Linked DNA regions of Homo sapiens. The protein of the gene in region 4 purifies or fractionates together with the protein of the main gene of each other region. This does not show direct contact. Each region holds a gene or a part of one and is shown on either strand. Other genes may lie near its edges. The genes, in order: NINL, NT5DC2, CPVL, BRSK1, ACO1, HADHA and AKAP10.

Evidence for each region.
Region 1: the proteins of BRSK1 (region 4) and NINL purify together in Homo sapiens (affinity purification with mass spectrometry; one large-scale study listed by BioGRID and IntAct). This does not show direct contact.
Region 2: the proteins of BRSK1 (region 4) and NT5DC2 purify together in Homo sapiens (affinity purification with mass spectrometry; one large-scale study listed by BioGRID and IntAct). This does not show direct contact.
Region 3: the proteins of BRSK1 (region 4) and CPVL purify together in Homo sapiens (affinity purification with mass spectrometry; one large-scale study listed by BioGRID and IntAct). This does not show direct contact.
Region 5: the proteins of BRSK1 (region 4) and ACO1 purify together in Homo sapiens (affinity purification with mass spectrometry; one large-scale study listed by BioGRID and IntAct). This does not show direct contact.
Region 6: the proteins of BRSK1 (region 4) and HADHA purify together in Homo sapiens (affinity purification with mass spectrometry; one large-scale study listed by BioGRID and IntAct). This does not show direct contact.
Region 7: the proteins of BRSK1 (region 4) and AKAP10 purify together in Homo sapiens (tandem affinity purification; one large-scale study listed by IntAct). This does not show direct contact.

Annotation. Positions count from the first base shown.
Region 1 is NC_000020.11:25,470,532-25,474,031, forward strand, and holds part of NINL (ninein-like protein), read right to left. Parts: intron 1-3,500. UniProt on the Homo sapiens protein: Involved in the microtubule organization in interphase cells. Overexpression induces the fragmentation of the Golgi, and causes lysosomes to disperse toward the cell periphery; it also interferes with mitotic spindle assembly.
Region 2 is NC_000003.12:52,531,058-52,535,228, forward strand, and holds the start of NT5DC2 (5'-nucleotidase domain-containing protein 2), read right to left. Parts: upstream 2,801-4,171; 5' UTR 2,681-2,800; coding exon 2,449-2,680; intron 1-2,448. UniProt on the Homo sapiens protein: Promotes dephosphorylation of tyrosine 3-monooxygenase TH which decreases TH catalytic activity and leads to reduced synthesis of catecholamines including dopamine, noradrenaline and adrenaline.
Region 3 is NC_000007.14:29,066,538-29,070,037, forward strand, and holds part of CPVL (probable serine carboxypeptidase CPVL isoform b precursor), read right to left. Parts: intron 1-3,500. UniProt on the Homo sapiens protein: May be involved in the digestion of phagocytosed particles in the lysosome, participation in an inflammatory protease cascade, and trimming of peptides for antigen presentation.
Region 4 is NC_000019.10:55,304,497-55,307,996, reverse strand, and holds part of BRSK1 (serine/threonine-protein kinase BRSK1), read right to left. Parts: intron 3,447-3,500; coding exon 3,077-3,446; intron 2,677-3,076; coding exon 2,628-2,676; intron 2,535-2,627; coding exon 2,411-2,534; intron 1,746-2,410; coding exon 1,547-1,745; intron 1-1,546. UniProt on the Homo sapiens protein: Serine/threonine-protein kinase that plays a key role in polarization of neurons and centrosome duplication. Phosphorylates CDC25B, CDC25C, MAPT/TAU, RIMS1, TUBG1, TUBG2 and WEE1.
Region 5 is NC_000009.12:32,426,143-32,429,642, reverse strand, and holds part of ACO1 (cytoplasmic aconitate hydratase), read right to left. Parts: intron 2,343-3,500; coding exon 2,207-2,342; intron 225-2,206; coding exon 140-224; intron 1-139. UniProt on the Homo sapiens protein: Bifunctional iron sensor that switches between 2 activities depending on iron availability. Iron deprivation, promotes its mRNA binding activity through which it regulates the expression of genes involved in iron uptake, sequestration and utilization.
Region 6 is NC_000002.12:26,238,133-26,241,632, reverse strand, and holds part of HADHA (trifunctional enzyme subunit alpha, mitochondrial precursor), read left to right. Parts: intron 1-2,489; coding exon 2,490-2,531; intron 2,532-2,628; coding exon 2,629-2,699; intron 2,700-3,500. UniProt on the Homo sapiens protein: Mitochondrial trifunctional enzyme catalyzes the last three of the four reactions of the mitochondrial beta-oxidation pathway.
Region 7 is NC_000017.11:19,967,829-19,971,328, forward strand, and holds part of AKAP10 (A-kinase anchor protein 10, mitochondrial isoform 1 precursor), read right to left. Parts: intron 634-3,500; coding exon 586-633; intron 1-585. UniProt on the Homo sapiens protein: Differentially targeted protein that binds to type I and II regulatory subunits of protein kinase A and anchors them to the mitochondria or the plasma membrane.

The DNA.
Region 1 (3,500 bases), on a different chromosome or scaffold from region 4:
TATGGGAAACCTCTGCTAGGTGAATCTCAAAGTGGGAAAAGGCAGGGATAGACAGCCACTATGTGAACCAAGTCTGCCTGGGCCGTCTTTGTTCTCTGACAACTCAGGGAGTCCCTGCTTGGGTAATGCCATTGATTTGATAGATGAAGATGGCAATTTACCAATGAAGATCACTAATGGGAGCCAGGAGTGGCGGCATGCATCTGTAATCCCAGCTACTGGGGAGGCTGAGGCAGGAAGACTGCTTGAGCCCAGGAGTTTGAGACCCTCCTGGGCAACATAGTGAGACCTTGTCTGTGAAAAAACAAAAAAGATCACCAGTGAAGTAGCTTAAGACCCATACTTGCTACCCAGAGAATGCATTCTTAATACTGACTGGTAAGGCTAACGTGTATTCCCCAAATAGGTCTCCATATGGTACTAGCTTCTTATTTTTTCAGTCTGAAAATACTGAAAGCCACATGATCTCACCATGTTCACTTCATGTATTTTTTTGTTTTTTCTTTGAGATGGGGTCTCATTCTGTCACCCAGGCTGGAGTACTGTGGCACGATCATGGCTCACTGCAGCCTTGAACTCCCAGGCCCAGGAGCTGGGACTACAGTAGGCATGCGCCACCACGCCTGGATAATTTTTGTTGTGGTGGAGATGGGGTCTCGATAGGTTGCCCAGGCTGGTCTCGAATTCCTGGTGATCCTCTCACCTAGGCCTCCCAAAGTGCTGGGATCACAGATGTGAGCCACCACGCCCAGCCCGCTTTATGTATTATACTTATAATAGTAAACATAAGTATCTTCTTCATATGCCTTCATTTTATCTCATGAGGAACTAAAGACAAAAATAAATAGTCACTGGAATTAAAGGCAGCAAAGGGTTTCAAGCAGGAGAGTTCTGTGTTTTTAAACTATCACTCTGGCTCTAGAATGGAGAACAAGTTGATGCAAGGCCGAAAGCTGAGGGGTGCCCTACCCCATCCCCCACATGACCACCAAACAACTAGATCCTGCGCAAAGCTGATCGCAACCTCTGTGACTGTCCTCATGGAAAGAAAAGAAAACCTGCAAGAATCTCCAAACAAAACAAAATCCTGGAAGCTGAAACCAACGCGTGAGCACTATGCAACACAAAGCTGGGGGGACCTTGCAACCAATGCCTATGTGTCAGCACTGCTATTAGCAGAATGGAGAAGCTGCACTGTGGACACCTGCACCAGACAGGGCCCTGGAAGGAGGTTCAGACAGTCCCAGATTAGCACCTTCTCACTTCTCTGCAAAAGCAATAGCATCCCATATAAGGCTCTTTATATTCCCAGAGATTAACATCAAGCAAATATGAGCTCACAATCAAAGATCACCATAACATACATGGAGCAAAGCCACCCATAAATGACAGCAGAAGCCAGAAGCCAGAATTCAATCCTCTAGAAACTGCAGGTATTGGACTTATTAGACACAAACTAAAAATAAGTGTTATGAAATGTTTACATAAATAAAAGACAGCAACAAACAATGAACAAGCAACAAGAAACTATTGACAATGATCAGACAGGACCAAACAGAATTTTTAGAAATGAACAAAAAGTCAATGTCAAAATAAAAACTCATGGGATGGTTTAAATAGCAGATTACACAGAGCTGAAAGAAAGAGATACTGACCTGGAACACATAGGTATGTAAAAAATACCCCAAATGTGATACAGACAGAAGATGGAAAATATAAAAGAGAGGTTGAGACATAAAGTGAAATGCTCTAACAGTCACATATCTAATTGAAGAAAATAGTGGGAGGAGAGGATATATATATATATATATATATATATATATATATATATATATACTTTTTTTTTGTTTTTGAGACGGAGTTTTGCTCTTGTTGCCCTGGCTGGAGTGCAATGGCGCGATCTTGGCTCACTGCAACCTCCGGAGAGGCAATATTTTAATAGTAATGGCTGAGAGATTTTCATGAGACACCAATGCAATCCATACATTCAACAGGGAAAATATTTCTTTTTTTTTTTTTTTTCCCTTTTGCTCTGCCGCCCAGGCTGGAGTGCAGTGGTGCAATCTCAGCTCACTGCAGCCTCAACCTCCCAGGCTCAAGTGATCCTCCCATCTAGCCTCCCAAATAGCTGGGACCAAAGGTGCGTGCCACCATGTGTGACTAATTTTTCTTAAGTTTTTGTAGAAAACAGTCTCCTTATGTTGCCCAGACTGATCTTGAACTCCTGGGCTCCCAGAGTCCTGGGATTATAGGTGTGAGCCACTGTGCCTGGCTGGGACAATGTTTTCTAAGTAGGATGAACAAAAAGAAAACTATGCCTATACCCACAACATAACAATCCCATTTCTAGGTACAGCCCAACATAATGCTCCAAAAGACAAATGCAAGAACGTTCAGTGCAGTTCCATTTGTGAGAGCCAAAAACTAGGAACTACCCAAATGCCCATCAACAGGAGAAAAGAATAAACTGTGGTATGTTCACACAACAGAATACCACACAGCAATGCAAATGTATGAACTACAGCAACAACACAGATCAATCGCACAACCAGGTTGAGCCAAGAAAGTCAGACACAGAAGAGTACACACTGCATGATTCCTCTCCATAAAGTACAAAAACAAGCAAACTGAATCTATGCTGTAAGAAGTGGTTACCCCGGGGACTCTGGTGAATTCCATCTCTTGTTCTGGGCGCTGGTAACACAGACGTGTTCAATTTGTTGACAATTCTCCTAATTGTACAAATATATACATTTTCTTATGTGTATCACACTTTAATAAAAAGTTAAAAAGAGGCTGGGCATGGTGGCTCACACCTGTAATTTCAAGGAGGATCCACTTTGGGAGGCTGAGGCAGAAGGATCGCTTGAGGCCAGGAGTTTGAGACCAGCCTGGGCAAAATAGTGAGAGACTATCTCTACAATGAATAAAATAAAATAAAATATAAAATAAAATAATAAAATAAATAAAATAAAATAAAATAAAATAAAATAAAATAAAACAAAGTGGCCAGGCCTGGTGGCTCAGGCCTTATGTAATCCCAGCACTTTGTGAGGATGAGGCAGGCAAATCACTTGAGGCCAGGAGTTCAAGACCAGCCTGGCCAACATGGTGAAACCCCGTCTGTAGTAAAAATACACACATACACACACACACACACACACACACACACACACACACACACACATCAGCTGGGCATGGTGGTGGGCACATGTAATCCCAGCTACTTGGGAGGCTGATGCAGGACAATTGCTTGAACTTGGGAGGCAAAGGTTGCAGTGAGCTGAGGTTGTACCACTGCACTCCAGTCTGGGCAACAGAGTGAGACTCCGTCTCAAAAAAATAAATAAATAAATAAATAAAAAGTTAAAAAGAAAGAAATGCACACAGCAAATAAAAACCACTAAAGATACAGGTCTCAGAAGTAACCAGAGCACAAAAGTCAGATACCTACTGTGGATGGCACAATACTGGCCTCTAACAGAGACTATGTGACATTA
Region 2 (4,171 bases), on a different chromosome or scaffold from region 4:
CAGCTGCTGCACTCAAGAGGCAGACATCTCGCTGATGTGCTCCGTGCCCAGAGCACTTGCCTCAGAGGCACTCTGGGGACACAGGGCTCCATTCCCACCCCTTTCCTTTGGAGCCAAGTTCAGGGTGTGGGTGGGGGATCAGGTGTGGCTGGTTCCCCAGGCCAGCACAGAGCGGCTGCTCCGAAGATCTGTGGGTGTAGACAGGAGTCTTCACTTGGATGCAAGTGAGACAGTTGACTGCAACGCTCTAGGGAGCTGCTTCTGAGCCACCCCTCAAGGCCCAGGGTTCTGGTGTGTCACTAGGACCCTGGGCCTTGCCCTTCCCATGGCCCTGAGTTCCCGGATACCAACTGTGACTGTGACTCTTGGTGCAGAAGACCTGGGAGGGTCTGCTCGGCAGTGCAGCCCCTTGCTGGCACAGAGTCCTGGTTAGGTCCAGGCCTTCACCTCTGCCCCTAAGGATGTTCCCAGGGGCCCAGGGGCAGACAGTCCTCCCAGGAACAAAGCAGGATGTGGAAACAGCCACAGGGCCTGGTGGCCTGGCCTGATTTCTAGACTAGAAGAACCTTGGCTCTGGGGCGACAGAAGCCTGTTCCCTTCCATAGGTGGTGTGGGTGGGGGGTGGGGGTGGGGCAGCTGAGGGTGTGTCCCACTCAGCATGTCCAGCAATTGCCCTCCTTTCTCCTCAGCCCTAGCTCCCACACCTGCCCATGGTGCCAGGTCCCAGGGCCAACTGCTCCCTAGCAGCCGTGACACTTGTGGATGCCTTAGAGGCTTGTCTTGTTCAATCCTCACTCCCATCCTGTGAGGCAGTCCCACTTATTCCCCCATCGTCCGGAGGAAGAAACTGGGGCTCAGGGAGGTGAAGTCACTTGCTCCAAACCACCCAGTAACAGGCACCGGGGTTGAGATCACCATTCAAGTCACCCCACCTGCATTAATCACTCTGCCTCTCAGCCTAGCCTCCCAATGTCACCACACTGAGGCCAGGTGGGTGGGGGCTGGGGGACTGAGGGACCTGTTGCACTGCTCTCAGCCCGTGGGCATTAGCCCAAAGCGGACCTCGGCGCCCAGAGGTGTGAAGCTGGCTCCTGCTGGTGCTCACCATGGGATCTTGGTGGGAATGACTTTGCTCCTTGTATGACAAGAGGAGCTTAGAGGGCTGTGAGGCTCCAAAGATGCAGGCAGGCCCAGGAGGACAATGTCCAGTAGATCCCCGTAGTCCTCCCTGAAACCTCCAAGGCAGGCTTCTCAGGATACTCTGAGGGTCTTCTCCGGGCCCAGAGCAAAGACTTCTTAAATAACGCTGGGCCGCCCCTCCACAGACACAAACTCAACCTGGGACCTCGAGGGTGGACAGATGCCCAAGGCTTCAAAATGACCATTCCTCAGGGGCCTTTACCATCCTGCCTTTACTGGTCAAGAAGTGATTCTCCGCCACCCCACAAAGCCGGAGTGAAAACCCCTGTCTAGCCAGTTAGAATCTTCCAGACAGGGCTACTTTGTTTTATCAGACAACAAAAGCCACGTCACCCCTGGGGGTTCCTCCGGAAGCTCTCCTGCCCTGCTTGGCCTGGTTCCAGTCATCACCCAACCCTGGGACAGAGAGGCCCCAGGACTGCGTTTCATGCTTGAGAGAGGGTGAGACTTGCTGGGGGACCACCCAACTGGTCAGTGATAGGGTCACGACCCAAACCATATCTGTCTGCTGCAGAAGCAGGGCCCCACTAGACCCACGGAGACAAGCAGGCAGATGTCCAGCACTCTCAGCTCTGGGGCCTCACTAGTGCGCCCCAGCCGGCCCCCTCCAAGAAGGGGCCTCAGCCTCCTCACGCCATTTCTCAGAGGGAGAGAGCAGGGACAGGGAGGTTAAGTGCCCTTTGCAGCCCTAGTCTGGGCTCCAGGGGGCGGGGGTGACTTGGCTTCTCCCAGCCTTCGCTGCCCGGGCTGAGAGGGGGCCGGACCTCCAGGGCGACATCGAGGTGTGTCTGGGAAGTCCAACCGGTGTCCCCTTTGGTCCGGCCGTCCCTAGGAGCCCGTTCCGCCCGGCGCCGCTCGCTGGCTTTGTCCACAGCACTCTCCCGCCCCAACTAAGGGTTGGCCGAGAACAAGGGGTTGGGGGCGTTTCCACCGCGGCTTCACGGCAGGCGGGACCCCGAAGGAAGTCGGCGGGGGCCCAGCACTCCGGCAGCCGCTCGAGGAGCCCCGAGCTCCTGCAGACCGAGCCGGGGAACAAACCTCCCGCCCGCCCCCGGGCGTCGGGGCGCCCCAGAGGCCCCCGGGATGAACGGCCGGAGCTTCTCGCGAAAAGCCGCCCGGCCCTTGCGCTCCGGGGCCCTGGCGAGCCCCACTGGGTGTTTCCCCGGAGGAGCGGCACCCTGGGGCTCGGTCCGTCCATCAGTCCACGCGGAAGACACCCCGGCGCACGTCCCGCCCCGGCTCACCCACCGTGCACCAGTCTCCGCATGTCCTGGTAGCGAGCCCATAGGTGCGCGCTGAGGTCGGCGCCGCTGGTGGGTGCCTGGGCGGGCGCGGAGCGCGGGACGCCGGGGCAGTGGGCGCCGGGACCCGGGGGGCCGCACCCAGGGCAGGAGGGCGAGGACGAGGCGGCTCGCGGCCCGCCGTGGCCTCCGCACAGCAGCCAGCGCCGAGCGGCCGCCCGCAGCCCCGCACCCGCCATGCCCACCGCGCGCCGCCCGCCGCCCGCGCTGCCCTCGGCCAGCCCGCCGCCCGCCGCCCGCCGCCCTCCGACTGCGCGCCCGCCACGGTGGCCTCGTGCTCCTCACGGCGGCCGGCCAATGGGTGCGGCGCGCGGAGCCCGGCCTGCCAATGGGCGCGCCCCTCGGCCCGGGGGGCGGGAGGCCCCGGACCCGGCGGGGCGGGGCGGGGCGGGGAGGGCTCCCCAGCCCCCTCCCCCAGCCAGTCTCCGGCGCGGTCCGGGAGGACTCTGCGCCCCCCTTCGGCCGTCACGCCGGCGATGGCGGCGCCTTTCCCTGGCCCCAGCCCTGGAAGTCAGCGGGCCTAAGAGCGGCCGTCCCTGAGAGGCTCCGGACGGCCGAGGCGCCGAGAGGAGACAGCCGGAGCGCGACGGGTACCCCCCGGGCCCCCGGGTCCTCTGCCGCCCTCTCCGCTCCCGGGTCCGCCCGCCCTACCCTGCGCCTCTGGATGCTTCTGACCCCAGATCCTCCGCTCCTCCCCCTAGTCCTGGTGCTCTCCTTTCCCGGGGTCCTGGTCCCCGGTCTCTGGGCTCGGACTGACTGCCCACTGACCAGAGCCCGGGCCAGTCCACTCACTGGTCTAACAAATAAAGAGCCCTTCCCGCGCTTCCCGGTGCCAGGCCCACGCTGGGGGAGGCCGAGGGGCCTGCAGGGCAGCCGACGTCCGCTAACCAGGTGACTGGGCCGTGCGCTGCAGGGTTGTGGGCCACGGTCACTGCGCCCGCTTGGTTCGGACCTCGGCAACTGGCCGCACTGACCCGTCAACTCCCGGTTTCCCGGCGCACGCCCCTCGTGAGATGCTGTGGTCTTTTCTAGCAACGTCGACAGGCTTTCCAACAAAATTCCTCTTTCCTGCGCAGAACCGCTCTCCACTCGCATTTCTTCTGCTCAGATCCGTATTCCGAGCCCGCACGCATACCAGGCTGTGCTCAGGGTCCGGAGGAGGCCGACCCAGTAGCCGTGGGCCCTGTCGGAGGGGAGCCAGCTGGGCGCGCGTTGTTTTCTGAGGTGGCCGCGCTGTCTTTCAGGGTGTGTGTACATTCGAAACTCCACTGAACCTTGATTGAAGACCTACAGTGTGGCAGTCCATGGCCTGGGGACTGGTAAGGATTGAGGCCGTAGGATGGGCTCGAGTGTGGCGGTGTCCCCAGGGCCCCAGTGAGCAAGTGGGTGTGCTGGGAACCTGGCCACAAGTGAACCTCCTCCAGGCGAGGGGATGCCCTGCAGCATCCAGCCGTCAAAACCTCCTGTAGAAACGGGAGCGAGCATCAAGCCTGTGTGTGTGCATGCTTGGGCGGAGTCTACCCGGAGGAGAAAGAGGCTTCCGGGCTGGCCCTCCAAAGCCGGTTGTACAGGCGGCAGCTCAGGCTGCTCACTGCGGGCCCTATGACCCTTTCTGGGGCCCTGCTTGCTCTCTCCAGTCTGCTTTTGTATATTTTGTGTCCATATCACCA
Region 3 (3,500 bases), on a different chromosome or scaffold from region 4:
AAAGACATATTGGATGAGAGGAATAGAGCCATGCAGACATCTAGGGGAAGGAAGGTTCCAGGCAGAGGACACAGTAAGCTCAAAGGCCTTGCCTATGGGAGTAAGCCTTGTGGGAAGGGTGCCTTAACATGGATCATGAACTGCTCACCAGATGACATGGAGAGAAGACGCAGGATATGGTGCAGATGCAGGTTCCTGGAGCTGGTGGAAGTTATCTTTGGGCTGACATTAAAAAACCCAGTCACCAGCTGAGCGGGAGAGCAGTCAGCATGGTTGCATGCTTTCCTCCAGCCATTGTCAGCTGTGTGGAGACAAGCACAGCCTGACAGAGAGGCAGATTGAGCCAGGGCTGTGGTTCAGCCAAAGGAGTTGGAAGAAATGCAAAAGAGCTTTGGGCTTGGAAATGTATGGAATGACTGACCCTGGGTTGAAGACAGGTAATTAGAGAAATGGAGACTTGAGGGGGTTAGAGATAGTGGAGAGGCAGGAGGATCAATGGATTGAAAGGTAGTGAGGTTGCAGGGCTGTAAGATCAGTACATTAGCAGAAGAGATTCGGACAGGAGGTGGTAGTTGGAGAAAGATGTTTGAATGTGTGATTGTGGATCAGCTGCCAGCATTTTAGGGTATGAGAATCAGCAGCTAAGATGAGGAGGAGAACAAGATCATTGAAAAAGAGGAGGCTGAGGCACCAAGGACCAGGTCCCAAAAGGATCGTCAATGTGGATCCTGCAGTTACCAGGAATTATGACAAGAATAATGCTGCAGAGAGTGACAGGGAGGAAGGAGCTCAGCTATTCAAATGAGAGGGAGTAACCAGGGGTTGGTAGGCAGACACAGTTGGAAGTGGTCAGAGGCCCTGTCTGAGGACAGGAGAGTCAAAGCTCAATGCTTTAGGAGGAGGCAGGGAACATGATCTGAAAGTCACATGATGAGCAAGGAAGACACCTACTCCACCTATGAACCAAGTGATACAGACAAGCTAAGAGAGAGAACAGCCCCCACTCAAGAGGACCACAGGGACTGCAGCATCAGGGGAGAGCCAGGTTTCTGGCAAAGCAAGAAGATGAAGAGAAGAAAATAGTCACAGAAGAGGTTGAAGACATGGAGGGGGGTTGTTGATGATGATATTAAGTTGTAAGGAGTTCTTACAAAAGAATTCAAAGAAATGAAGTCAGCACATGTTAAAAACAATCTATCAAGTACAAATTTAGGTCTCTTATCAGATAAGGTATTATTATTCTAATTTTATGGGTGAGAAAACTGAGACACATGAGTTTAAGCAACTTGCCGAGGACACCTCACTAATAATGTCAGAGATGAGATGATTAGGCCACGACTCCTGAGCCTGCACACTCAACCACGCACACACTGGCTCCCAGCAGTCAGCCTGCAATGCTTCCTACTTGCCAATTCCTTCTGGCCATGCTTCAATGCTTGAGAAAATAGACTAATTATTATATTCATATTCTTTTTTTTTTTTTTTGAGATGGAGTCTCGCACTGTCACTCAGGCTGGAGTGCAGTGGTGAGATCTCAGCTCACTGCAACTTCTGCCTCCCGGATTCAAGCAATTCTCCTGCCTCAGCCTCCCGAGTACCTGAGATTAAAGGCGCCTGCCACCACGCCCAGCTAATTTTTTTTTGTGTGTGTGTATTTTTAATAGAGACGGGGTTTCACCATGTTGATCAGGCTGGTCTCGAACTCCTGACCTTGTGATCTGCCCACCTCGGCCTCCTAAAGTGCTGGGATTACAGGTGTAAGCCACCGCCCCCGGCCTGTATTCATATTCTTTTTCAAACATGAAAGAACTTATTCAAGTTCCTATTGCCATGGGGCTAGAGGCCAAGAATGAAAAGGGTTATCACCATAGAAGGCGGTGTGGGTGGAGGTGGTAGTAAGTATTCTCTACCAATGCTACCATTGCTCAGGGCCCCACATCTGGTTGTGCAGCTCCATGCGATGCCTGTGGCTAAGGGGTGCAAAGGGACAGGGAACCAGCCAAAGTTCTGCTCGCTGAGCTGGAGAGCCTGGCTCAGGGCTGCATCTGGAGAAGTGGCCACCTCTTATCCTCACACAATGGAGGCATCTGCCTGCCCCGTCCTGAACCCACAGGACTGCATCACCACAGAGGAGGTGTCTTTTTCTTTTTTTTTTTCTTTGTTTTTTTTTTTTTTGAGATGGAGTCTCGCTCTGTCACCCAGGCTGGAGTGCAGTGGCGCGATCTTGGCTCACTGCAAGCTCCGCCTCCTGGGTTCACGCCATTCTCCTGCCTCAGCCTCCCGAGTAGCTGGGACTACAGGCGCCCGCCACTACGCCCGGCTAACTTTTTTGTATTTTTAGTAGAGACGGGGTTTCACCGTGGTCTCGATCTCCTGACCTCGTGATCCGCCCGCCTCGGCCTCCCAAAGTGCTGGGATTACAGGCGTGAGCCACTGCGCCCGGCCGAGGTGTCTTTTTCTAATTTGTTCACCCAGATGGGGCACCATAGGCCAGGGTCATTCTGAATGCACACATCATTTTTGGAACTCATTGTTAGAAATTATCTTCAACACCAGTGGGAATATAAAGTCAACCTTGAAGAATAACTTTGCTTTTAGAAAGAGTTAAAAGTCATTTGTTGGCCAGGCATGGTGGCTCACAGCTGTAATCCCAGCACTTTGGAAGGCCGAGGCGGGCGGATCACTTGAGGTCCGGAGTTTGAGACCAGCCCAGCCAACACGGTGAAAACCCGTCTCTACTAAAAATAAGAAAAATTAGCCATTCGTGGTGGCGAGTGCCTGTAATCCCAGCTACTCGGGAGGCTGAGGCAGGAGAATGGCTTGAACCTGGGAGGTGGAGGTTGCAGTGAGCTGAGATCTTGCCACTGCACTCCAGCCTGGGCAAGAGAGCGAGACTCCGTCTCAAAAAAAAAAAAAAAAAAAAGAAAAAGTCAGTTGTTGTCAAAAAATAACATGGGTGGTCAAGACCTGTGAAACTAAGAACTTTGTGATTCAGAAAATCATCATGGAAAGGGAGGTAATACTGGACAGAGGATCAGTCATTTCACATCTTGCAGAATATCTAAGACGATCCAGGATTTTTACAGAATGCCTGAAAATTACCATAGGATAAATACTGTGGTGGAAATGGGGGAAGCAATTCCAGTCCTCAGCCTGCCACAATCTATTTGTGTATCCTTCGGCAATTCATTGCTATCCCCTGGGGCTCGGCATCCTCTCCACTCACCAGTAAATGTGTGTGTGTGTGTGTGTGTGTGTGTGTGTGTGTGTGTGTGTGTGTGTGTGTGTGTGCATGTAAATGCATAGGGACAGTAGATGACCTATCTCCAGAGTACTCTCCAGCTCTGAGTTACTACTCTTTGATTAATTAAATCATTTTAAAGGATCAGAGCGTCAAACAGGCTTTATCATTTTAGGCTTGAGATTCTGACATTTATATTCCCCTGGGTTTCAGGATTTGTTGGAGTCTTCCTTTGCAGTCACTGAAACACATTTCAACC
Region 4 (3,500 bases):
AAAAAGAAATCGGAGAAAGTCTTTTCTTTTTCTTTTTTCTTTTGAGACAAGGTCTCATTCTGTCACTCAGGCTGGAGTGCAGTGGCGCGATCACGGCTCACTGCAGCCTCAACCTCCTGGAATCAGGTGATCCTCCCACGTCAGACTCTGGAGTAGCTGGGACTACAGGTGCATGCCACCGTGCTGGGCTTTTTTTTTTTTTTTAAATTGTGTGTGTGTGTGTGTGTGTGTGTGTGTGTGTGTGTGTGTATAAATTTTTTTGTTTGTTTTGTAGAGATGAGGTCCATTATGTTGCTCAGGCTGGTCTCAAACTCCTGGGCTCAAGCAATCCTCCCACCTCGGCTTCCCAAAGTGCTGGGATTACAGGAGTCAGCCATCATGCCTGGCCTCAGAAAAAGTCTTAAAATTGAGAAAGGTCTGCATATTAGCCTTTTTTTTTTTTTTTTTTGAGACAGAGTCTCGCTCTGTCGCTCAGGCTGGAGTGCAGTGGCACAATCTTGGCTCACTGCAACCTCTGCCTCCTGAGTTCAAGCGATTCTCCTGCCTCAGCCTCCTGAGTAGCTGGGATTACAGGAGCCCACCACCACGCGAGGCTTATTTTGGTATTTTTAGTAGAGACAGGTTTCACCATGTTGGCCAGGCTGGTCTTGAACTTCTGACCTGCTCGTCTCAGCCTCCCAAAGTGCTGGGATTACAGGCGTGAGCCACCGCGCCCAGCCTGCATGTTAGTCTTTAAGGGGGACAGAAAAATAAAGAGTCATAATTGGTTTTGGTGACGGAACACCCACAGTTCCACAGCCGTTTGGTTTAGAAATCTTTGGGGCAAGCCCCTCTCCCACCTGTGACATATTAATATTGGTGACAAAGAGATCGGCGATATCCCTCCCTATCCAAATGCTCACTATCAGGATGGAGGGACCAAACAGAAAGCAGAACTGGAAGCAAGGTATTTTAGTGGTTTTCCTTTCTTGTGCCAAGCCTCGACTGGTCATGGCTGCCTGGAGTTCAAGTTCCTGAGGCTGCCACTGAGCTTAGCAGGAATAAGCACTGCCATCAATTGGTAATGTCTGCTCTGGGCAGACTGATATTAGACAGCAGTGTGCTGTGTCTTCACCCTTTGGCTCTACCATCTTAAAGTAATAGGAAGAGCTGGGCTCTCTCCTCTGAAGTTGGGAGGCCTGGGTTGGGCTGCAGCTCTGCGACAGTGTATTGTGTGACTCTGGCCAAGTCCATTGACCTCCCTATGACTCAGTTTTCTCCTCCGTAAAATGGGTGATTACTAACACCTCAGTAGGCTGCTTGGAAGCTTCAAGGAGATAATGCATTCATTATTTACACTGTAAATGCCAGGGAAATGCTGATGAGAGTGGGGAAATAGAGGATGGGCTTGTGGGGCGGTCTGTGTGGGCAGGAGGAGCACAGAGAGTCGGCACCAGCTGAACACCATTTCCTCCTCCTGCTGCTGCACTCCTGGGCCCCTACACTGTCTCAGCTGTCGTGAACAGTCCCAGCACTGGGCTGCAGGCAGCCTAGCCAAGAGACTCACCCGAGATGAGAGTGAAGGTGACGGAGTAGATGCCACCACCTCCGCTGCCGTCCCGTCGCGGGGAGGGCTCTGGACCCTCAGAGGAGCTGATGTCCACCTGGAAGCGGACGGGCTTTTGGAAGACGGAGGGGCCGCCACTGGCCTTGTACTCGGCCCTGAAGCTGGTCTGTGACAGCACACTGTGACTCAGGCTGGGGATCTGAGCGAGGTAGGAACACAGGAAGGGGTGAGCCCAGGAAATGGATACCCAGCCCCACGACCAGCTCTGGCCAAGGAACTACGAGTCCCATGAGCCACTGGAGGGAAAGAAGGACAGGAAATGCATTGGGAGGCCCCACTGCCTGCAAGGACTTGTAGCTTTCTCTATCCTATCAGCGAGTAAGGGAGGAATGGTTGGACATCCCCCTAACATCATGAGGACTCTGATAGCTAGGTGACAGCCTCAGACTCCAAGACCACATGAAACACTGCTTGCTCCCTTTACAAATGCTTCCCATAGCCATATCTGTCACAGAAACTCTAAGTCCCATCCACCCGTAGGCATAAAACCACAGACCAGCAATGGGGCAGCCTTAACATTGCCTGGGAAGTTTCTTCGGCTAGTTTCAAACCTCGCAGTAGGGGAATGGGAACTCACCAATCCTTGAGGACATTGCAATTCAGGATCCTATTTCCCCAATTCCAGGCCTCTGGCCACGATAAATCTTTCCTGCCTACCGACTTCTAACCAACTCTGGCCATAAAACTACAAATCCCATGAGCCCCAGGAGGAAGCCAGGCCTATGCTAAGGTGGTTAGCCCCAGGGGCTGCTGGGACTTGTAGTTCTGCGGGGGCCAGGCTCGATGGGGACCCAGGCCCCTCACCGACAGAAAGGCATGGACGATGTCTGCTTTGATGCTGCTGAGAGGTTTGTCCTTTAGCACGAGGAATATTTGTTCTTCTTTGTCCAAGGAGATGAAGTTCCCGAACCAGGAGCGTTTTGCCAGCCTGAGTGGGAGGGGGTGGTTGGAGGAGGGTTAGGAAGGCGCCGAGGGCATGAATCCCCTGCATCCCCACTCTTTCCTTCCCTGTGAGACTCACTCCGGGGAGGACTCTGGCGTCAAGCTGGACATCTCCTCAGCGGTAGGGACTGGTAGGGGGAAGGCAGAGAACGTGGTCAACACCTGTGCATCATCCCAGTTGCCAGCACACAGGCCTGCACTCGCCCCCTCCCAGGGTTCCAGAGCCTTGGGTTGCAGCCTCGGCCAAGCCATCCCTCCTGGGCGGGGCTCACAAACCACGGGCCAATGGGAGGTAATCCAGAGCCCCAAAGGCGCGTGCCCTTCAATCGGGGTCCTCCTCCAGAGCTAGAGGCCCCACCTCTCTCCCCAACAGGTGCACCTCTGCTTCAAACCCCCTCTTCTCTAGAACGTGGGAATCCAGGCCCCCAGTCCCTTCCTCTCTAGACACGCCAGACGGACATCCCTGGAACCAGATTTTTAGCCCCAACCTCTCCCCACATTAGGACTCGGCAGTTCATGCCCCCATACCCTGCATCTTGCGCCGGTGAAAGCGAGGGGAGCCCAGGAAGCTGTTGCGGATGGAGTTGAGACGACTCCTCCAGGCGGCTCCCCCGACGCCACCGCCGGGGCTGGGGGGTGGTGTTGTCCCCGGGGTCCCGGTGGGACTGGCCCGGGGCGTGTGCAGAGGCGAGTGCAAGGGGGTCCCGCCAGAGGAGCGCGGGGAGCCTGGGGGGCCGGGCAGGGGTGTGGAGCGGGCACTGGGGGGCGGGGGCTGCTCCCCGGCGCCCCCACCCCTGGGGCCCCGAGAAGGCAGCGTCTGCGTTTTGGAAGTCGGGGAGCCCCCGCCTCGAGCCTCATCTCCAGCCCCCGGCTCCGGTGAAAAGGAAAAGACCGGACTCTGCAGAGGACAGGAGACTGAGATAAGCGAGTGGACTACAACTCCCAGGAGGCT
Region 5 (3,500 bases), on a different chromosome or scaffold from region 4:
ATTTTAACTAAACTCAAAAGATCATACTCTAAACCACATCCCCTGCTTCCATGGACCTTCTTGAAAATATCAGCATTTTTGTCACATTACATGAAAAGAAACAACTGCTCTGAAGACCTGCAGGGACCTCTGCAATTACCTGTGTGATGGCTTCTACCACAGGTTCAGGTAAAGGCCCACTGTTGCCAATGCAGGTCATGCAGCCATAGCCCACCACGTCAAACCTAGACACCAAGAGAGAAGCACACACACACAAAAAAAGAATAACTTTCAGTGAGCCCTTCTGCTGGCCACAGTTTCCAGAGACCACTGTTCAAAAAGGAATTGCAGTGCATGAACTAAGTTCAGTATAGTGCTATTTCTAAAAGTTTCATTCTTGAGAGCATTCTGATATATAACATAAGAATACTATTCATATTTTTAACTTATAAAAAGGAATCAAATTGAATGAGCAACAATTTAAAAAAGTTGAAATCATATATGCCATATCTTCATTAACTACTATTATTGTATAATCCTAAGGAGATTTGAATTTTATGAGGCACATGAATAAAATATATGTCATAAGTCAGGAATAATATGGAAATTGGAGAAAGCGTATTTGGCAACGAATACATTCATGCACTGCACAATGTTTCTGTTAGTGATAGACCACATATACCCAAATGTATATGTGGTATATAGCTGAAAAATTCCTATCACCTAGTGATGTTGTAGCCATCGTGATGTCACAGTGCAAGGCATTTCTTGTTTATGATGATGCTGGTATAAACAAACTCACGCTGACTTTTTTTTTTTTGAGACGGAGTCTCGCTCTGTTGCCCAGGCTGGAGTGCAGTGGCGCTATCTCTGCTCACTGCAAGCTCCACCTCCCAGGTTCATGCCATTCTCCTGCCTCAGCCCCCCAAGTAGCTGGGATTACAGGTGCCCGCCACCACGCCCGGCTAATTTTGTTTTTTTGTATTTTCAGTAGAGACGGGGTTTCACCGTGTTAGCCAGGATGGTCTCGATCTCATGATCTCGTGATCTGCCTGCCTCAGCCTCCCAAAGTGCTGGGATTACAGGCATGAGCCACCGCGCCCAGCCATGCTGACTTTTTATTGTTCTTTTAGAGTGTACTCTTTTTGTTTATTAAAAAAAAAAGCAAACCAGTTAAGTGTAGAACAGCCTCAGGAAGGTTCTTCAGGAAGTATTCCAGGAGGCATTATTATCACAGGAGATGACAGCTCCATGGATGTTATTGCCCCTGAAGACCTTCCAGTGGGACAGATGTGGAGGTAGAAGACAGTAATACTGACAATCCTGACCCGGTGTAGGCCTAAAGTGTGTGTTTATCTCTTAGGTTTTTTTTTTTTTTTTTTGAGACAGGGTCTTGCTGTCACCCAAACTGGAGTACAGTGGCGTGATCATAGCTCACTGCAACCTCAAACTCCTGGGCTCAAGCCATCCTGCAGCCTCAGCCTCCCGAGAAGCTGGGACTACAGGCATGCACCACCATGCCTGGCTAATTGTTTTACATTTTTTTTTTTTGTAGAAACAGGGGTCCCACTATGTTGCCCTGGCTAGTTTCAAACTCCTGGCTTGAAGCAATCCTCTTGCCCTGGCCTCCCAAAGCACTGATATTACAGGTGTGAGCTACTGGGTCCAGCCTGTCTTGGTTTTTAACAAAAAAGTTTAAAAAGTAAAAAAATAAAAACTTCAAAAATAGGAAAAAACTTATGAAATAAAGATATAAAGAAAATATTTTGGAACAGCTATACAATATGTTTGTTTTAAGCTAAGTGTTTTAAGAGTCAAGAGTTTCAATAAACTTAAAAGTTTGTAAAATAAAAGTAAGCTACGGTTTACATTATTGAAGAAAGAAACTTTTTTTTATTAAGTTAGTGTGGCCTAAGTGTCCAGTGTTTATAAAGTCAACAGTAGTGTGTGGTAATGTCCTAGGCCTTCACATTCACTCTCCACTCATTCACTGACTCAACCAAAGCAACTTCCAGTCCTGCAAACTCCATTCATGGTAGGTGCCCTAGAGGGCAAGAGGGCTCTCTTTAGATGGAATGTAAGGGTTTAAGTCTAACTACCAACTGATAAACGACTATGCAATTAGATATCATCAGATAATCTCACATCTGTTACAAGGTGACACAGCAAGATACATGAGGGATACAATTCAACAAAAGCAATGGTGCAAAAGAAAACTCTCCCTCACCCAAGCTGAGACAGATAAGGCATGACTCCGCTTTCTTGTAGGTAGTAGGTGACCACGCCACTCCCAGGAGACAGGCTAGTTTTGATGTAAGGCATCACGTTCAGGCCAGCATCCACAGCTTTCTTTGCTAACAATCCTGTGAAATGGTAAACACAGATGCAGTGTGGGAGGCTGCCTGCTCTAGGTGCCAGGCACACTTCAGAAAAGAGCCTGATTTTCTTCAGTCTGCATTTCCTGCCACCACCTGACCACGCTCCCTTCATGTTGGCGCTATCTGCTGTTTCTGCTGCCAAACAGAAATCTAAAGGCTCCCTGGCCAACGGTCATTTAGATATATGCAGTAAACTCAAAGCTAGGCAAGGAAATGAAGAAAGAGATTTGCTTACTTTTTTTTTAAAGAGATAAATGTAAAACCATTTAGGAATATATTACAAAATGAGTTTTTAATTTTTTTTTTAGAGGGAAAATCATCTTTCTAATTATGTTTTATTTGGATGAAAATCATCATTGAAGGAGCCCTTTCTGAAACTATATCAGCTGTGTGCTGGCTGGCAAGGAACGGTCAGCCAAGAAGTAAAAATCGAGTGTTCAGATATATCTTGAAGTGGAGGATCTGCTGGACTTTGGCAGATACAGAGACTGCTACTGGAACACTGGGTGCTCTGTCTTAGGAAGTATCACAGAAGTAGCAAAAACATGAGCAGTGGGGGTGGGGACATGAGGGGACAAAAAGCCACAGACAAGCTGGTAACTTGTCTACAGAAGACTGGTTTGCTCCAGACCAGACAAGGAAAGCTTAGGTGGCAATACACGGACTCAGGCAAAGAAGGCTTTCCTAATGCCCGTGTCTGCTTCATAGAAAGGAACTGCTGACACTGTCTGGTCTGTGGATGGATATAAGAGGAGCTTTGGGGATGACTAAAAACTTGGAAACTAAAGAGACCTTATAGTAGGGAAACCACATATGTAAATATTAACAACTCAACCAGAATTGCGAAACAGGCCAGTGGCCCCAGGTTTTATCAGCCAGTGCCCTGTGCCCTCACTGAGAAACACCTCCCAGCATTCACGTCAGAACTCAATCCTGCTGCTCAGGGGTTTCACGGAGAACAAAGTCTGTGGTAACACTTTATTTTTCTTCCAAAGTCTGACACAAGAATGTAGGCTTTCCCAGAAATCCAGCTTCCTTTGCTTTCCTCTACTTATTTTCTGTGTTAATTCTCAAGAGAGACTATTATGCAGTGTGCATTCGATTTTAAAAACTTTGCTTTGGATACTATTTATTGTGTAGATA
Region 6 (3,500 bases), on a different chromosome or scaffold from region 4:
GTCACCCAGCCTGGAGTGCAATGGTGCGCTCTTGGCTCACTGCAACCTCCGCCTCCCGGGTTCAAGTGATTCTCCTGTCTCAGCCTCCAGAGTAGCTGGGATTACAGGCTCCTGCCACCACGCCCAGCTAACTTTTTTTTTGTTTTTTTTTTTTTGTTGTTGTTGTTGTATTTTTAGTAGAGACGGGGTTTCGCCATGTCAGCCAGGCTGGTCTCTAACTCCCGACCTCAGGTGATCCAGCCACCTCAGCCTCCCAAAGTGCTGGGATTACAGGCGTGAGCCACCGCGCCCGGCCATAGATTGTGTATTTTTAAATTTGATTCTCACTTCCTTAATCTCGTCGCTTCTCCCAGTGTTGAATCTTGAGAAAAGCTGTTGATTATTACAACCAAAGTAATGTTTTCAAATTTGAAATTTATGTTAGCATAATCCAGCTCTCTTCGCTGACTGTAGTCTTATGAGGTTTTGTAGTTATTCTTGGGTTACATTACAAAGATGATTAAAAAGTGGGGCAAAGGTTTCTCTCTACTTTGCTGGCACAGTAGATGTAGGCTAAAGTTCACTCAGCTGCCATAGGGTAAGCTCTGCAGTTAGGTAGTGAGTAAGGCTAGACTCCAAAAGCAAAGCTACCTTGCAGTGTGACTTGATTTGGTTGACTCTGGTTTGGAATTATTTTCGAAGTATGTTCATGTATATACTGGTTTTCTATTTGTTTCTATTTGTCTTGATCTTGGAGAGGTTTTGTGTATGAGTGTGTGGGCAGCATAGGTAGGTTAGTGGACAGGAGTTAAAATGGTTTAAACTGTTGGCTAATGACCACTAACCTGTTATCTCAAATATTTGATCTTTAAAACTGCAACCCAGTGGGGCATAGTGGCACATGCCTGTAATCCTAGCTACTCCGGAAGATTACTTGAGCCCAGGAGTTCAAGACCAGCCTGGGCAACATAGGGAGACCTCGTCTCAAAGAAAAAAAATGTTTTTGAAATATTGCAACCCATGCTCACTCTATTTCCTTTTTTTGCTTAGGTGCTTATTTTCTAACATATTTGTGTTTCTTGGTTTTTCCCTCTCAACCTGCATTCCCAATCAGTTCATTCCCACTCTAATCCACTTTACCCTGTTTTGCTAGAATTACCTATCCCCTTCTTCCCTTCCCACTGGAATTTCTACTTTGCAGGAAAACTTTTTCTATGCCAGGCCTATTTTCACTTTTCATTTATCTTCACTGAGTAGGAACTGATTCTTCCCAGATATCATATCCCCTGCTGACCTGGAATGTAAGCTCCACCAAGACAGGGATTTTTGTCTTTTTTGTTCACCCTGAATGTCCTGCTGTACTCCAAGTGCCTAGAACAGTGAATGGCACATGGAGGTCACAATATATGTTTTTGTTGAATGAATAACAGATTATGTTGGAAAAGATTACAATGTGGTTGGTGAAACACCTGCTACAGATGCAGCAGTTAGAGGACAGAACATTAAATAATAAAATAAAAATGCAGGCAAGGAAAGGAAGGATCACTGTAGACAGAATCCGAAGATGAGGTTTTGTGGAAAAGAGTGGAGTCATGATGCAAATATAAAGAAGGAAGAGTGGTAAATACAGATGACACAGATTTCAAATGATGGAAAAGCAAAGCAGGAAACATACTATTAGTCAAGTAGAGGCACTGGGGATTGAGGAGATGGCTGGCTTCTCCCATCTTAAAACACTGAAGTTCACTTGTAAGAGACTTGTTCACAGTCACACAGCTAGTAAATAAACCTGATGGTTGAACACAAGTCCTTTGCCTTTGCACTAAGTCGGCTGGCTTGGATTGCTTAAAGAAGAAATGCAGGCAGAACCTGAAATCACCCCATTCTGCTTCTGGTGCTAACCACAGTTTTCTTTCTTTTTTTTTTTTTAATGTGTCACCTTGCCTTTCCAACCAGTATAAAGCTGCTATTTTTTGTGCCTTCTCTTCCCTTTCCATAAGGAACTGGGGGATAAAGAGAAAATACGGAGGCAGCAAGAGCCTTGGCAACCTACTGATGATCCTCCCCTATTCCACTCCACCTTCACTGGGTTCTCCAGTCAGTAGTTCCCATGTGCCTCTTACATTGCTATCTCTTTGGTTCTCTTTGCTTCCCTCTTCCCTTTTGTGATTACACTGGGCCCACCTGGATAATCCATGATAAACTTTCTTTATTAAGGCCAACTGATTAGCAACTTTAATCCCCCCTTTGCCGTGTAACCTAACATATTCACAGGTTCTGGGGATGTATATCCCTTTGTGGGGGCCAGTCTTCCTCTTTTAGTATCCAAATAATCATCTGACCTAACAACTGAAATGGAAAAAATATGGCAGTAGTCATATGGCCTAGAATACATTGTACAGATTTGGGGTTTTTGTTGTTGTTATTATTGTAAATTACAGCTTTGTTATATATAAAAGGTACTACAGAAATTGTTTCGCAAATTAATTTTGAAATGTCTTTTCTTACAGGTTATATATGCCGCAATTTTACAGGGTCTTCTGCTTTGCTGAGTAAGTTTAATTTCTTTTTAATGTGTATGCTTACATTGCTTTTTGGATTTATGTTGCAATAAATATGTTTACAAATAAATCTTTCTTTTCTTTTTAGCCAGAACCCATATTAACTATGGAGTCAAAGGGGATGTGGCAGTTGTTCGAATTAACTCTCCCAATTCAAAGGTATCTCATTTAATTTGCAGTTTTTTTCTGCTAACCGCATTATGAATCTAGTCCTGAATGGGAAAGATGTATCCCATATTTCCCCAAATCTACCAATCTGGCAGTAATCTTACATGAATTTACAGTTTTGACAGTTATGTTAAACTTTGACAGATTGCCAAGGGAGCCAGTTTTCTAAAGCAGAGGTTCTTGCGTAAGAATTCCTCTTGTTGACCTTAGGTGCCACCAGCCTCCTGGTTATAGTGTAGAATGAGGAGGTGACTTATTAGAGAAGAACCAGAGTACAAGCTTTGTTTATAAGACTCAAAATTTGCCTACCCATCTTAAATATGAGGTTGTTAATCCATTTTCTTCATTACTTGCCTGACATAAGTCACTATTCATAGTAAGTTGGCTGAGTGAAATGTGGATACTTGGCTCTTAAGCTTCCTGAGGGATCTGAATGACTCAATGCAATTCACATATTGGAAATCAAGTTCTGTTCGAATTGAAACTTCTTTTGTTTTTGGCAGCTTCAATAAAGTGTGTAACAGTAATCCATTCTTTTGCCAAGAAGAGCTTTATTGTGAGAGTCCATGCTTTTCCCCCATCTAAATTTGGTGTATTCTTACTTTAAAAATCTTGTAGCCAGGCTGGGCACTGTGGCTCACACCTATAATCCCAACACTGGATGGCCGAGGCAGGAGGATCACTTCAGCCCAGGAGTTTGAGACCACCCTGGGCAACATAGCAAGACCTTGTCTCTATAAAAAATAAAAAATAGTTGGGTATGGTGATGTTCACCTGTAGTGCTAGCTACTC
Region 7 (3,500 bases), on a different chromosome or scaffold from region 4:
GCCGAGATGGCACCACTGCACTCCAGCCTGGGGATAAGAGCAAGACTCCATCTCAAAAAAATAAAATTAAGGTAAAAAAAGCCTACTTACGGCCGGGTGCGGTGGCTCACGCTTGTAATCCCAGCACTTTGGGAGGCCGAGGCGGGCGGATCACAAGGTCAGGAGATCGAGACCATACTGGCTAACATGGTGAAACTCTGTCTCTACTAAAAAATACAAAAAATTAGCCAGGCGTGGCGCCGTGCACCTGTAGTCCCAGCTGCTGGGGAGGCTGAGGCAGGAGAATGGTGTGAACCCGGGAGACAGAGCTTGCAGTGAGCCAAGATCGCGCCACTGCACTCCAGCCTGGGTAACAGAGCAAGACTCCGTCTCCAAAAAAAAAAAAAAAAAAAAAGCCTACTTATTATATGCTAGATGTTAAAGCATTATACAGGTTAAAGAGGGAAATAAATCAAAATCATAAGTAATTATAAAATAAGGCAGAAATGATTAATGCCAAAAGAGAGAGTATAACAGGATTAAAGAACTCACAAATGCAAAGCACATCACTTTTTAATGCAGTGGACTGCCAAGGGCAGAACTTACCTTTAATGGACTTCACATCTGAGGTCTTCTCTTGTTCTTTGCCTTTCACTAGAACATAAAAAGATAATTATGACCAACTTTTGCAGTCAGAGATCCATTCTATAACACTGTAAAAATTAGACCAGCTTTATTCTAAGATGAGTATTCAAAGTTCTAGAACAATGGACAGCCTTGGAGGAGGGCACAGGAGGGTAGTTGTCAGCAAAGGCTTCTCTAAGGAAGTGACCTTGGAACAGCATCCAGTCAAAAGAGTTGAACCTGCTTATGGAGAGACAATGTAGTCACAACATCTGGGGTCAAATTCTGGCTCTACCACTTATAAGCCATGTGATCTTGGACAAGTTACTTACTTCTCTGGGTCTTAATTTTCTTGATTTATAAAATTAGGTCAATAATAAAAACTACCTTAGAGGATTATTGATGAAAAAAAATATATACCTGTAAGGGGCTTAGAAGAGTAACTAGCACAGTAAATTGAGGACAAATGCTAACCAATATTATTACCATGTGTCATCCATAGTACTAGCTACTAGAAGCATAGTGAAGAAAGGTCTTTGGTTGTGTATCATATCTTATTACTTATTCCTCCCATAGCATCAAGTGAAAACATCCTAAGCCTCTAACACTCAGAGTATAATAATTTGTCTGGGCCAGGCACGGTGGCTCACGCCTGTAATTCCAGCACTTTGGGATGCCAAGGCGGGTGGATCACCTGAGGTCAGTAGCTCAAGACCAGCCTGGCCAACATGGTGAAACCCCATCTCTACTAAAAATACAAAACAATGAGCTGGGTGTGGTGGCGGACACCTGTAAGCCCAGCTACTTGGGAGGCTGAGGCAGAGAATTGCTTGAACCCAGGAGGCGGAGGTTGCAGTGAGCCGAGATCGCGACACTGTACTCCAGCCTGGGAGACAAAGAGAGACTCCGTCTAAAAAAATAAAAGATAAAGAATAATTTGTCTGTAAAATAATCATATAATTGCTTCCTTACTACATAAAACAGTAAAAATTCTGCTGTAGATAAGCTAATATGACATCCAAGATAGGAAGGTGCCCAGCAGCTTAAGCCAAGTGTGAATTCTATCACAGGATCTGACATAAGACTATTTTTAACCCTCTTTTCTTGTTTTTTTTTTTCAACATTAAAAAATCTTACCAGGAAAAGGTTATCAAAATAAGAAATGCCAAAACGTGCCCATCTCTGTATTTGTGCTCTTAAACATTGAAAGGTGAAAGGCTAGTAGCAGGAAATAACTCGCCCTCAGAGTATCTGGATGAAGTCAATACATCAACTGTTGAGTGCTTGGTATGTGCCAGACATGCTCCCAGCTCAGAAAAGGCAATGATTTTGCCTTCAAAAAGTCTACATTCAAGTGTGTGGAGACTAACATGAAAAAAATAAATAAGATCGTTGCAGGTACTGATCACTGCTGTCAGGAAGACGACATTTAAAAATGTTGTAGGGTCACTGGTGTTTGCAGCCCTCTCAGCAGCATCTGCCCATGGACTACATCACTCACTTTAAACATTAACTTGTCTTGGCTTCCTTGACTCCTCTCTTCTGCATATACATCTGTATTTCCTGGCTGATCCTACCCATTCTTAAGGCTTACAATACCATAGATACGCTGTTACTCCTAAATTTATATCTCCATCCTAAATCTTTTATCTCAAATTCATATAGCTAACCACCTACCTGCCATCTTCCATAATTCCACTTGTCTAAAAGGGAACATGTCATCTTCTCCCAAACCTGTTCCTACCTCAGTCTTCATCTTCCCTCATGAATGACACTGTCATCCACCCACTACTCAGACCAAAATTCCGGAAGTCATCCTTAACATGGTCTGTTTATTACCTTCCACATACAAACTATGACCAACTGATTCTACTGCCAAAACAAACCACCACGGTTCCACTTTTACCACCTAAAAACATTCTCCTACTATCAATCAGATCTCCTATGTTATACTTCTAACATATACACAACTCAACAATCAAATATCAGCATTTTGCTTTATTTCCTTCTGTCCCCCTAAGTATTATACATAGACTTTAGAGTTCCTATGAATCACCACCTGACCCTTCCTTTCCCAGATATAAATACTTACTAAATTAGATATTTCCTGGCCAAGCGCAGTGGCTCACACCTGTAATCCCAGGACTTTGGGAGGCCAAGGCGGGTGGCTCACTTAAGGTCAGGAGTTCGAGACCAGCCTTGCCAACATGGTGAAACCCTGTCTCTACTGAAAACACAAGAATTAGCAGGGTGTGGTGGCGGGTACCTGTAGTCCCAGCTACTTAGAAGGCTGAGGCAGAAGAATCGCTTGAACCCGGGAGGCCGAGATTGCGGTGAGCTGAGATTACACCACTGTACCCCAGCCTGGGTGACAGAGCAAGACTCTGTCTTAAAAAAAAAAAAATAAATAAATAAATAAAGACATTTTCCTTCCATGTACGTTTTTTGACTATGACCACATACAAATACTTTTTATTTTTATTTTTTTGAGACACGGTCTTGCTTTGTTGTCCAGGCTAGAGTGCAGTGGCCTGATAACACTCGAACTCCTGGGCTCAAGTGATCCTCTCATGCCACCATACCTAATTATCCTTTCTGTTGTTGAGATGGGGTCTTGCTATCTCGCCCAGGCTAGTCTTGTACACCTGGGCTCAAGTGATCCTCCTGCCTCAGCCTCCCAAAGTGCTGGGATTACAGGTGTGAGCCACCACACCCAGCCAAACGTGTATATATATACATGTATGTGTATTTTTTTTAATGGCATTATTCTGCACATCTTTAAAAATCACGCAAATGGCTGAGCACGGTGGCTCACGCCTGTAATCCTAGCACTTTGGGAGGCCAAGTTGGGTGGAACACTTGAGGTCAGGAGTTCAAGACCAGCCTGGCCAACATGG